Regions from separate parts of the Homo sapiens genome. Here all the other regions are linked to region 1. Evidence: fine-mapped expression QTL. A gene starts in region 1. Each other region holds a variant in brackets. All regions are shown on one strand. Distances are from middle to middle.

Region 1 (2,687 bases):
GCTCTTCTCACTCATTCTGTATTCTAGGTACCCAACTCCAGAGGATCTAACTGGCCAAAAGCAATGGTACAGCTCTGGGCCTTTGTGCATGCTCTTCTCTGTTGTGTGCACTCCTACACATCCCTGAGGCCCCAGCTCAGGACACTCCACTGAGGTCCCCATCATAGCCCCCTGGCAGAATTGACTGCCTCTGTGCTCCCTGCGTAGCGCATTTATATCTATTCTGCACAGATCTTGTTCTTTTACACAGTAGTCCCCCTTATCTATAGTAGATACCTTCCAAGCCCCCCAGTGGATACCTGAAACGGTGGACAAAACTGAACCCTGTATCTACTACGTTTTTTCCTATACATACATACCTATGATATAGTTTAACTTTATCAATTAGGCACAGTAAGAGATGAACAACAATAATAAAATAACAGCAATTATAACAATATGCCAGCATTGCTAAGCTTGCACTTTGGGGCCATTACTAAGTAAAATAAGGGTTACTTCAATACCGCCACGGTCGATCCGATCACCAAGCTAGCTACTAAGTGACTAAGGGCGGCTACTAGAGATAGGAGGCTGACCTTGGACAAAGGGGCATTCCGGTCCCAGGAATCAAGATTTCATCCTGCTACGCAGAATGGCCGGAAACTTAAAACTTAGGACTTCTGTATTTCTGGAATTTTCCATTTAATAGTTATGGACAAGAGCTGACCACAGGTAACTGAAATCGCGGATAAAGGGGGCTACTATCCGCAGTTCTCTAGTACTTGGGAGTTTCTTGCGACACTCATTTCTGCAACCGAGTGTCTCTCAACAAATCAAACTGTTCGGAATGTTTGGAATATTTTAAACGAAAGAATGCATTCAACAGGCAGTGCCCAACTCCCCAAGTTGGGATTCTCTCCTTGGATCAGTCTCTCCTGTTTACCCCCCTCCTCTCACCACCGGCTGCAGGGGGACCTCTCACTCCTTTCCTTCCCAGTCCAAATGCTGGGCGGTGGAGAGCCGCACTCGCGACAGACACCAGAACGCACCTTCGATAGCACATTCCTGCCCCACCTGCCCCTCAGCACCCGCTGCAGCCCCGACGAGGGTGGGGGTGGGAGGCAGCAATCCTTCAGGTCCTCGGCAGCCCTGCGGGCCTACCTTGTCCCCTTTGCTTAGGACCTGCCAAGGCCACGTCTCTACGCTTCCGAACAGCGAGTTCTTGATCATGCCCAACATGTTGTAGCCGAGACGCTCCCGACGCACGGGAGGACGTGAGGTGGCGGGGGCGACGGAGCACCACGGGCAGCGACCACCGGCGGCAGGGCGGCAGGGCGGCAGGGCGGCAGGGCGGCAGGGTGGCAGGGCGGCAAGGCGGCGGGACGGCGAGGCGGCGAGGCGAGAGGCGGGGCTAGAGGCAGGGGCCAGAGGGCGTGGCTAGAGGGCGGGGCGGCAATTCAGCCCGGCGGTGAGGCAAGGGGGCGGGACGGCGAGGTGAAGGGGCGGAGAGAGAGGGCGGGGCGGCGAGGCGAGGGGGCGGAGAGAGGGCGGGTCAGTGATGCGAAGGGCGGGCAGCAGGGCAGCAGTGCAGCAGTGCAGCAGTGCGGTGAGGCGAGGGTGCGAGGCGGCTAAGCAAGGGATGGGCCCGCCGTGGCGAGCCGCTGGGCCGTGTTCCGCCTCCTTTCGGGCTTTCCGCGGGTGTCTGGGGAGGGAACCCGGCCGCGGGCCTCAGGCCGTCCCCCTCCGCAGACCCCTTCTCTTATTCTGAGTCTAACCTATCCGCTGGGGCCCTGGAAAGCGATTCTCGCCTGGAGTGGCTTTAGGCAGCGGTGGTGGGGAACGTCCTCTCTCAGGTGCCTGGGCTCCAACCTCCGAGCCCCGGGTTGCTCACGCTTCTCCGGTCCTCTACCCGAAGGCTCGATCCCGCTGGTACAGCGGCGGCCAGGCTCCCTGTCTTGGTAGCTGTCCCTCTACCCCCGCCCCATGACCTCTTCTAGACCATTGAAAGAGCATCCAAACCACTTTCCTGCTGCCACTCTTTCCTACCATCCCTCTAAATCACAGTTTCCAGGTGACTTTTCTAAGCATGGCTTTTCTCGTTCACTCCTGTTCAAAAATCTTCTCACCAATTTTGTCACCATTTACTCAGCTGAGTGCCTGCTTTCTGTCAAGTATTTTACCAATAAATCTCTACTCCACACCACCGACAAGAAATATTTTGGAGCCATTTAAAAAGGAGGAAACGGAAGCTTCTGCCGCTGCCTGATCCTCCATTGCTCCGAGCCGCGCGGGTGCAGCGGGCTGTGGAGCCGCGGGCCGAGCCCCGCCGGAGCGCCCGAGAGCCCGCGCGTCCCGGGCGTCCGTCGGGGTCCGAGGTCCCTCCCTCAGGGAGTCCCCGCTCGGCAGCGCTCTCGCGTTTCACGCAGCGGCCGGGGATCTGGGACAGGCGGGGCCCCGAGGCCGAGCCTGGCGCTGCCCAGCGGCCGGTGCAGGCCTCAAGCTGGGCCGGGCGGAGGGGAACCGGCGAGTTGAAGCCCCGGGGCCGAAAGCCGGAGCCTGTGGCGGCCGCGGGGGTGGGGAGGGGGGTGGGGCGGCTTCTTGGGCAGCGCCACACGGCGGCGCAGTGATGGATGTTAACAGCAGCGGCCACCCGGACCTCTACGGGCGCCTCTGCTCTTTCCTCCTGCCGGAGGTGGGGGGCAGGCTGC
Region 2 (2,687 bases), 27 kb after region 1:
TTGCTTGAGATGTCTATTAGACATGCAAGAAGAACTACAAATAGGCAGTTTTGGATACCCTAGTCTAGAATTCAAGGGTGAGATCCAGGCTAGACATATAATTTGGAAGTTAATACCCGGGGAGTTTGGTGAAGGAATGGAAGAGTAAACGCTCTAGGCTGGTCATTTCTCCCCTGATTTTATTAACTCCTAAATGTAGGAGATTTGGGTTGCCTGTTTTGAGCCCCTGGACTCCTGTTTCACTGATTTCCATGGTGAACAGGTAGGCAATCATTGTCTCCAAGCAGAGTAGGAAAGGGGCAGAGGAAAATGCAATCTTGTTCTCGCTAACTTTGTCCCCTGCCAGTATTCTCTTCTGGGCTACAGTCAACCCTTCTTCCCCCCAACCTTCAGGTGCAGAGCTTCCCTCTCCCAGGGTTTCTTACTGTTGATGTAATTAGTTCCTGGAATCTATGTTTCCTTCTGAGCTTCTCCTTGTTTGATTCTGGGGAAGAAAGCCAGTAACCGATGCCAGTTTTCCATCTTTGCAGGAACTCAAAGTTCTATTAGATTTTCAAAATTAAACAAGGGGAAAGAATATTTTTTTAAGAGAAAAAAGATGGGGAAACTGATTTATCATCTCTTTCAAATGTCCTGTGAAACTATTCCAAGGAGGTTGATTCTGATTAGACTCAGACTGGGGAAAATAGGGATTCAGCAAAGCTGGGAACTGCATACTGGGGAAGAAAATAAAGAACTGACTACTTGCCAGGAAACAAAAAGTATTCCATGTGAAGACATGCTTTAACTCTAAAACCTTTCTGAAATTCTGCCTTGGGTAAACATGTATAGTATTTCCTCAAGAGCTACATTTCCCCAGCCTACGGTAAACAAGGGGAAAGATACCAAGTTCATCACAGATTATTTCTCTTCAATCTTGTATGATTCACTACAGTTATGCAGAGAAAATGTTTTAATATTATAAAGTCAAGCATAAACACCTACAAAGTTAAATACGATGAACATTAAAATAAACAGGAGAGGTAGTTTATAAAATTAAACTAGATGACATAATTGGAAGTTAATACAACTTAAATAGATCTTAGAAAAGTTTTCTGATGAAAATTAATATCTACATTTTTATATAGTTTCTCTTGATTGACTATGTCCTTAGTATACTCTGTATTTTGTTTTCTATTTTTGTACTGGTGGCTTTTAAACAATTTTTTACAGGAAGTATGTTTATTATCTACCAATACAGATGAAAAAGGAGTCAAAAGTGAAAGTTCCCCTGTGATAGCAGAACCTTCCCTTCATGGGTGCAAGGCAGCATACCTCCCAGAGATAACGGCTCTTGACAGTTTAGTATTTATCTTTCCAGACTTTAAAAACACAAATTAACATTTTTACATATACACACATATATTGAATGCATACATATTTCAGATATACGTAGAGAGATAATTACATCTCT[A/G]TATATCTGAAACTTATGATTGGTATGTTTATATATTATTAGTACATTTAGATCTATGTCATTATTTGAAATAGCTGAAATTCATTTTGCACATATATTAATAAATTATATTTTATTTCATTGAAAAATACACACAAAAAGAGAAAATTAAAAGAAACCTGCCTGTGGTCCCAGCTACCCTGGAGGTAGAGGTGGGAGGCTTGGGCCTGGGAGGTGGAGGTTGCAGTGAGCCAAGATTGTACCACTGCACTCCAGCTTGGGTCACAGGGCAAGACCCTGTCTCAAAAATAAAATAAAATAAAATAATAAAATAAAAATAAAATAGAATAAAATGAACCATATATTTTTATCCCTTTTTAAATTAAAACATTATAAAAATAATCTGAAAAAGTAGTATCTGGTCATTGGTCCCAGTTGTATCTCTTCTTTTCTATGTTGCCAGTTTGTATTTTTTGCACATTCACTAAAAGAGAGAAGAAATCCACAGATCTGTAAGGCTAAGGTGTAAAAAGGAATACATTCATAACAGAAGCAAATAAACTCTTGAATGCCTGGTCTTTAAGACTGGGGAGTGGAGGAAAATATATTCAACAATTTATCTGACAAGAGAACAGAAACGGAGGATTAAAATTAAGGTTAAAAAGAGAATTTGAAAGCAATTATATGAGACAGGCAGAAAAACTTCATGCAAAAATCCTTTCTTTAAAATGTTTACTGTTATTTAAGGTTGGCCTTGTAATGAGGAAAATAGCTTCATTCTTAGAAATAAGAACATACTTCAGGTTTTTCAGGCCAACCAATGTAGAAAAACATGAAGTGAGTTCTGTGATGAGATAGGTTGAAGTAACCCCCAGTACATTCACTTCTCTAAAAATAGCCATTTCTTTCATGACAAAATACCTATAGAAAAATAATGAAAATTGCCATTCTTGGTCTTTAAGCCTCTACTAGTGGAAATGGAAATTTCCTCAGCTTTTAGAGTCCATATCTAAGGTCTTTAAAGACCTAAAGCCCATGCAGTGAGAGAGAAAACATTTGTGAGAGGCAGGAGGAATTAACTCCATAAAGAAATACCTCTCTAGGGAATGTAAGGCTTGATTGCAGAAGTAAATATTAGCCTCAAAGGAAAACCTTTTGCAGTAAAATGACAAAACTTCATGTACTTAACGCAAAGGGAAGGGGAATTTCTTTTTTGTTTTGAGACAGAGTCTTGCTCAGTCTGGAGTCGCTCAGG
Region 3 (2,687 bases), 40 kb before region 1:
TGCCTGGCTAATTTTTTTTGTGTGTTTTTAGTAGAGATGAGGTTTCACTATGTTGGCCAGGCTGGTCTCGAACTCCTGACCTCAGGTGATCCACCTGCCTTGGCCTCCCAAAGTGCTGGGGTTGCAGGCATGAGCCACTATACCCGGCCTTAAATTTTATTTTAGCCTCAACTGGATTAGATATCATCTCCTCGTTGGAAAAGTATATTGTTTATCGAACATTTTTTAAAAAAATTTTTAACTTTTATTTTAGGTTTGTGGGTACATGTGTAGGTTTGTTACATAGGTAAACGCGTGTCACGGGGGTTTGTTGTACATGTTATTTCACCACCCAGGTATGAAGCCCAGTGCCCAGTAGTTATATTTTCTGCTCCTCTCCCACCTCCCACCCTCTCCCCTCAAGTAGGTCCCAGTGCCTGTTGTTCCCTTCTTCGTGTTCAGAAGCTCTTATCATTGAGCTCCGCATTGTAAGTGAGAATCTGTGGTATTTGGTTTTCTGTTCCTGTGTTAATTTGCTAAGAATAATGGCCTCCAGCTCCATCTATGTTCCGCCAAAAGGCATGATTCTCATCTCATTTGATAGCTGCATAGTCTTCCATGGTGTATATGTCCCACATTTTCTTTATCTAATCTGTCATGGACGTGCATTTAAGTTGATTCCATGTGTTTGCTGTTGTGAAGAGTGCTGCAATGAACATTCGTGTGCATGTGTCTTTACGGTAGAATGATTTGTATTCCTTTGGGTATATAGCCAGTAATGGGATTGCTGGGTCCAATGGTAGTTCTGTTTTTAGTTCTTTGAGGAATTGCCATACGTTGAATATTACTTAAACTGAAAAAAATGTAAAGGAATTATGAGTGTGGACAACAAATACAACCAGAAAATCTGGCGGAATTAATAAATATTGTTAAAAAACTACTAACAGCCCTGGTTTATTCAACATAAGGCTTTGGCACCTAAAGAAATTTAACTGAACTTCATGGATTTATTGAAATCGAGATGCCAGTGGGCAAAACTTGTAGAAATATTTTGTTCAGATATTGGAGCTGACATATCCACTTACCACACGTAGTCAAA[G/A]TCCTGGTTACCATGAGGAAAAATACTCAAAAATAAGATTTAGATTTTGTTAAACTGAAAAACTATCTCATCTGGCAAATATTTTTGAACATGGTATTTGGATAGTAAAAGTGCACATTTAGCTGATTTGGGGGCATTATTTTCCTTTTTTTTTTTTTTTTTTTTTTTAAGACAAGGGTCTTGCTCTGTCACCTGGGCTGGAGTTCAGTGCTGCTATCAAAGCTCACTGCAGCCTGAAACTCCTGGGCTCAGGCATAACTGGAAATACAGGTGCACACCACCATGCTCAGCTAATATATTTTTTTTAATTAAAAAATTTTGGCTGGGTATGGTGGCTCATGCCTGTAATCCCAGCACTTTGGGAGGCCAAGGCTGATGGATCACAAGGTCAGGAGTTCAAGACCAGCCTGGCCAACATGGTGAAACTCCATTTCTACTAAAAATACAAAAATTTGCCAGGTGTGGTGGCAGGTGCCTGTAATCCCAGCTGCTTGGGAGCCAAGATCGCGCCACTGCACTCCAGCCTGGGACAGAGCGAGACTCCATCTCAAAAAAAAAATTTTAGACTGGGTGTGGTGGCTCATGCCTGTAATCCCAGCGCTTTGGAAGGCCAAGGTGGGTGGATCTCTTGAGGCCAGGAATTCGAGACCAGCCTGGCTAACATGGCAAAACCATCTCTACTAAAAATACAAAAATTAGCTGGGTGTGGTGGTGCACACCTGTAATCCCAGCTGCTCAGGAGGCTGAGCCACGAGAATTGCTTGAACCCAGGAGGAGTCAGAGGTTGCAGCGAGCCAAGATCATGCCATTACACTCCAGCCTGGGTGACAGAGCAAGACTCTGTCTTAAAAACAAAAACAATTAAAAAATTTTTCGTGAAGACAGAAATTCACTATGCCAGACTGGTCTTGAACACCTGGCATCAAGCAATCATTCCGCCTCGGCCTCCCAAATTGCTGGGATTACAGGTGCGAGCCACTGCACTCAGCTGTACGATACATTTTAAAATGTTAAACACATTTAAGGAATCTAAAAGGCAGCAATTTTAAAAGGTGGCTGTAAGTATCACACATTCCTCCCACCGAGAGGTGGGGTCTATCTAATTCCTCTCCACTTGAATCTAGGCTGGCTTTAGTGACTCTCTTGTAACCAATAAAATGTGGTGGGAGTGAGGATGCGTGAATTCCAAGGCTAGGTGAAAATTAGCCTTGCAGCTTCTGCTTTGATCTTTTGGAATACTTGGTCCAAAGGCTCTTCCTAGGACACAGCTGCTGTGTTCTGAAAACCCCAAGCTACATAAGGGACCACATATAGATTCTCTGGTCAATAGTACCAGCTGAGCCCAGCCTGCTAGCTATCCTTGACAAAGCACCAGGCACGTGAATGGAAAAGCCATCTGGGAAATTAATCCTCTTGTTCCAATTCTTCAATTGAAACTCCACTGAGCAGAATTTATGTTTATGTCTGTATGCAAGAATTATTCACATTGCTATCAGTTTTCCATATGTTGACTTATATTTCTACAGAGTTTTAAAATAGCCTAGTCAAAATCAAAGGCACATATCCCTATAGGATCAAATAATCCCAGAGGCACCAGCATTCCAATGAA
Region 4 (2,687 bases), 31 kb after region 1:
CTGGAATAAGACAACAGAGTTTCATGATTTTCAGGCCAAGACGTAAAAAGAAATACAGAAATAAATATTTTTTTTCATTGAAATAAGTAACTTTATGCACAATCTCCTGAATAAAAGAATAAAATCTGAGATTTTTGAGGCAGAGGGTGATGGAGGGTAGGATGAAAATAAAGTATTTGTGATGGTAATAAGAAAATAGCTTCACGTGAATCTCTCTAAGAATCCTACTTAAAAATCTTTAAGGTATTGACAAGGGAAAACAAAGACCCAAAAAAAACCAAACAAGTCTTTAACTCCAGGGTAAAAGAAAGAATGAAAATGAAATGTCTAATTTCATGGAAAGGTAACTCCAGGCAATATCATCTCTCTAAGAAATTCTCCTGGGTTTCATTTTTAGGCTCTTCCAAAATTAGGACAAGAGCCCTTTCTTACCTAGGCTGTACCTTGGTTCTTTTGATCTTGAGATAGAAATTTCAGACACGAAGGGACAGAGGCCATTAGAGAATTTCTTATCACCTTTATCCTCATCATACAGTACCAGGTATGACCCTCGTGGCTCCTGTCCTCTGCCTGAAGAGGACTTTTTGAAGTTTCCGGTGGTCTTTGGCCCACATGGGGTGTGTCTTTGTTCATCAGGACATGGATGAAAGACAGGTTGCCAACCCCTTGCAATTAAGTGTCTGCAGGCACGAGCTCGTGACTATTTCAAGAAGGATTGCTTTTCACTTCAAATATATTACTTTGTTCAAAGCAGATCCTGTGGGCTTACAGAGATATCACATCTTATCCTCTACTTCATTTGGTTCACCGAAGGACAAGTGTATGCCTGTCCTCTTAGAAACAGGAAAAAATACAAAGCACAATTTCTCAGCAAAGAGGGACTCCTCATGGTGAAGTTGTTAAACAAAAAAAAAAAGGCGACGTTTTCCTCTTTGTGTCAGATGTGCAGCCTGGCTTTTGGGAAGAGGTTTATAAATCTTGCAGTGCCTTGTTTAAGAACAATAATTAGTAATGGTCTGTTAATCCCATCTGCTTCC[C/T]AGAAGGAGAAAGAGTCACTACAGGGATGGATTAGGGCCTCTCTCCAATCCTACGTAGGGACATCTGCAAAGACTCTCATAATAGATGTTAAAAGCTTGACTAGAGAAGAAGAAAGTTGCCTTAGAGAGAATCTCTAAGGTAGAGCAAGAAGTAGATAAGATAATACTACTGGGAAAATCTACTATATAAGAGAACAAAACTTCACATCTACTAAGCAGAGATAAATAAAAGGAATACTTATGATTACTGAAGGTTCAGGGGACTCAGTAAATTAATACCCATCTTCTCTGCATAGCTCTGATTGATCTGGGAATAGACTGAAGAGATGGACAGATGGAGATAAAATATCAGCTTCACTATTGAAAGAAAGCTACGCTGAATGACATGGCTTAGATCTGTTGTAAAAGGGGCTTGCAAATTCTTTCTTTGAATTAGAGAGGTGTACCCAGGCTAGCACAGCAGGACAACTGCAGGCCCTTAAACCACAGCAGAGTAGAACAAAGTGTGTGCTCTCTGTAGGCAGGCACGTTACTCTTTAGCCTTTTCTTCCTTGATCTCTCTGTGGCATTTAAAATAATTGACTATGCTTTTCCCAAAAACACTTTTTTTGCTTGGTTTCAGGGACAACAAACTCTCCTGGTTATCCTCTGACCGTACTGGCTATGCCTGCTGCTTTCTCTGGCTGGTTCCTCCTCTTCTCCCTGAACTGTGAATGGTGAAATGCTGCAGCGTTCACGCTCCCCTCCCCTCCTGCATCACACATGCTTTCTGTGATCTTATTCCATTTCCCAACTTTAAATATGGGTTATGTGCATTAGCTACCAAATTTACTATCGAATCTACCAAATGACTACCAAATTTATATCTCCACCTAGGACTTCTCCCTGAACTCCCAAGACTCATACATGCAACTGCCTGGTCAACATTTCCACTTGCATGTCCAGTTGGATGTTGAATTTGACACATCCAAAACCAACCCCTGATGTCTGCTTCCCATCCCACTCCTCTCTCAGTTTTCCCCTTCTCCAATCTTCTGGTTGCTAGGTCAAAAGACTCACTACGGTCCCTGACACCTTTTTCTCTCATGCCATACATTCAGTTCTTCAACAAATCCTGCCGGCTCTACCTTCAAATTAAGTTAAGAATCCTACCACTTCCCCCCACCCTCAAAGAAACTACCCTAGTCTAAACCACCATCAGTTCTGGCTTGGGTCATTGTAATAGTCAAAAGTGATTCATCACTGCCAGTACCCCCACAGTCTGTTCTCAGAACAGCAAAGTGATCTCAAGGAACACTTTTAAAATCTAAGTCAAATAAACACTTCTGTGCCTCAAGGCTTTCAAAGTCTCTCTATTTAATCTAGACTAAAAGCCAAAGTCTTTATTTTCCCTACCAAGTCTACAGAATCTGTTCCTACTCTGGCCATATCTGACCTCATCTAATCTCTAATCTCTCCCTAGAACCATCCTTTCCTGGCTGGGCGCGGTGGCTCCCACCTGTAATCCCAGCACTTCGGGAGGCCGAGGCGGGTGGATCACTTGAGGCCAGAAGTTTGAGACCAGCCAGGCCAACGTGGTGAAACCTCATCTCTACTAAAAATACAAAAATACAAAAATTAGCCAGGTGTGGTGGCAGGTGTCTGTAATCC

Alleles and levels. Alleles are on the strand shown, and positions count from the first base shown. SD is a standard deviation of normalised expression in the study named. Not every link is listed here.
With allele C in place of T in region 4, the expression in lymphoblastoid cells of the gene that starts at base 1,369 in region 1 is higher (moderate effect, 0.54 SD a copy in TwinsUK).

The links. PIP is the estimated chance that this variant, and not a neighbour inherited with it, causes the effect.
Region 2: its variant is fine-mapped to the expression of HEBP1 in whole blood (TOPMed, PIP 0.99).
Region 3: its variant is fine-mapped to the expression of HEBP1 in whole blood (TOPMed, PIP above 0.99).
Region 4: its variant is fine-mapped to the expression of HEBP1 in lymphoblastoid cells (TwinsUK, PIP 0.95).

Annotation. Positions count from the first base shown.
Region 1 is chr12:12,998,897-13,001,583 of GRCh38, forward strand. HEBP1 (heme binding protein 1) reads right to left here and starts at 1,369. Exons shown (of 4, transcript NM_015987.5): 1 at 1,141-1,369. The coding sequence starts at 1,218. All of the region lies in intron 2 of GPRC5D-AS1 (GPRC5D and HEBP1 antisense RNA 1), which reads left to right. It also overlaps the pseudogene HTR7P1. RefSeq lists silencers at 1,234-1,383, 1,434-1,553, 2,314-2,463.
Region 2 is chr12:13,025,945-13,028,631 of GRCh38, forward strand. No RefSeq gene overlaps it. Among named protein-coding and RNA genes, the nearest start is that of FAM234B, 17 kb to the right of the region's middle. The variant A/G (reference allele first, on the strand shown) is at 1,454.
Region 3 is chr12:12,958,604-12,961,290 of GRCh38, forward strand. The region is part of intron 1 of GPRC5D-AS1 (GPRC5D and HEBP1 antisense RNA 1); the gene reads left to right. Among named protein-coding and RNA genes, the nearest start is that of GPRC5D, 7.8 kb to the left of the region's middle. The variant G/A (reference allele first, on the strand shown) is at 1,079.
Region 4 is chr12:13,030,079-13,032,765 of GRCh38, forward strand. No RefSeq gene overlaps it. Among named protein-coding and RNA genes, the nearest start is that of FAM234B, 13 kb to the right of the region's middle. The variant C/T (reference allele first, on the strand shown) is at 1,038.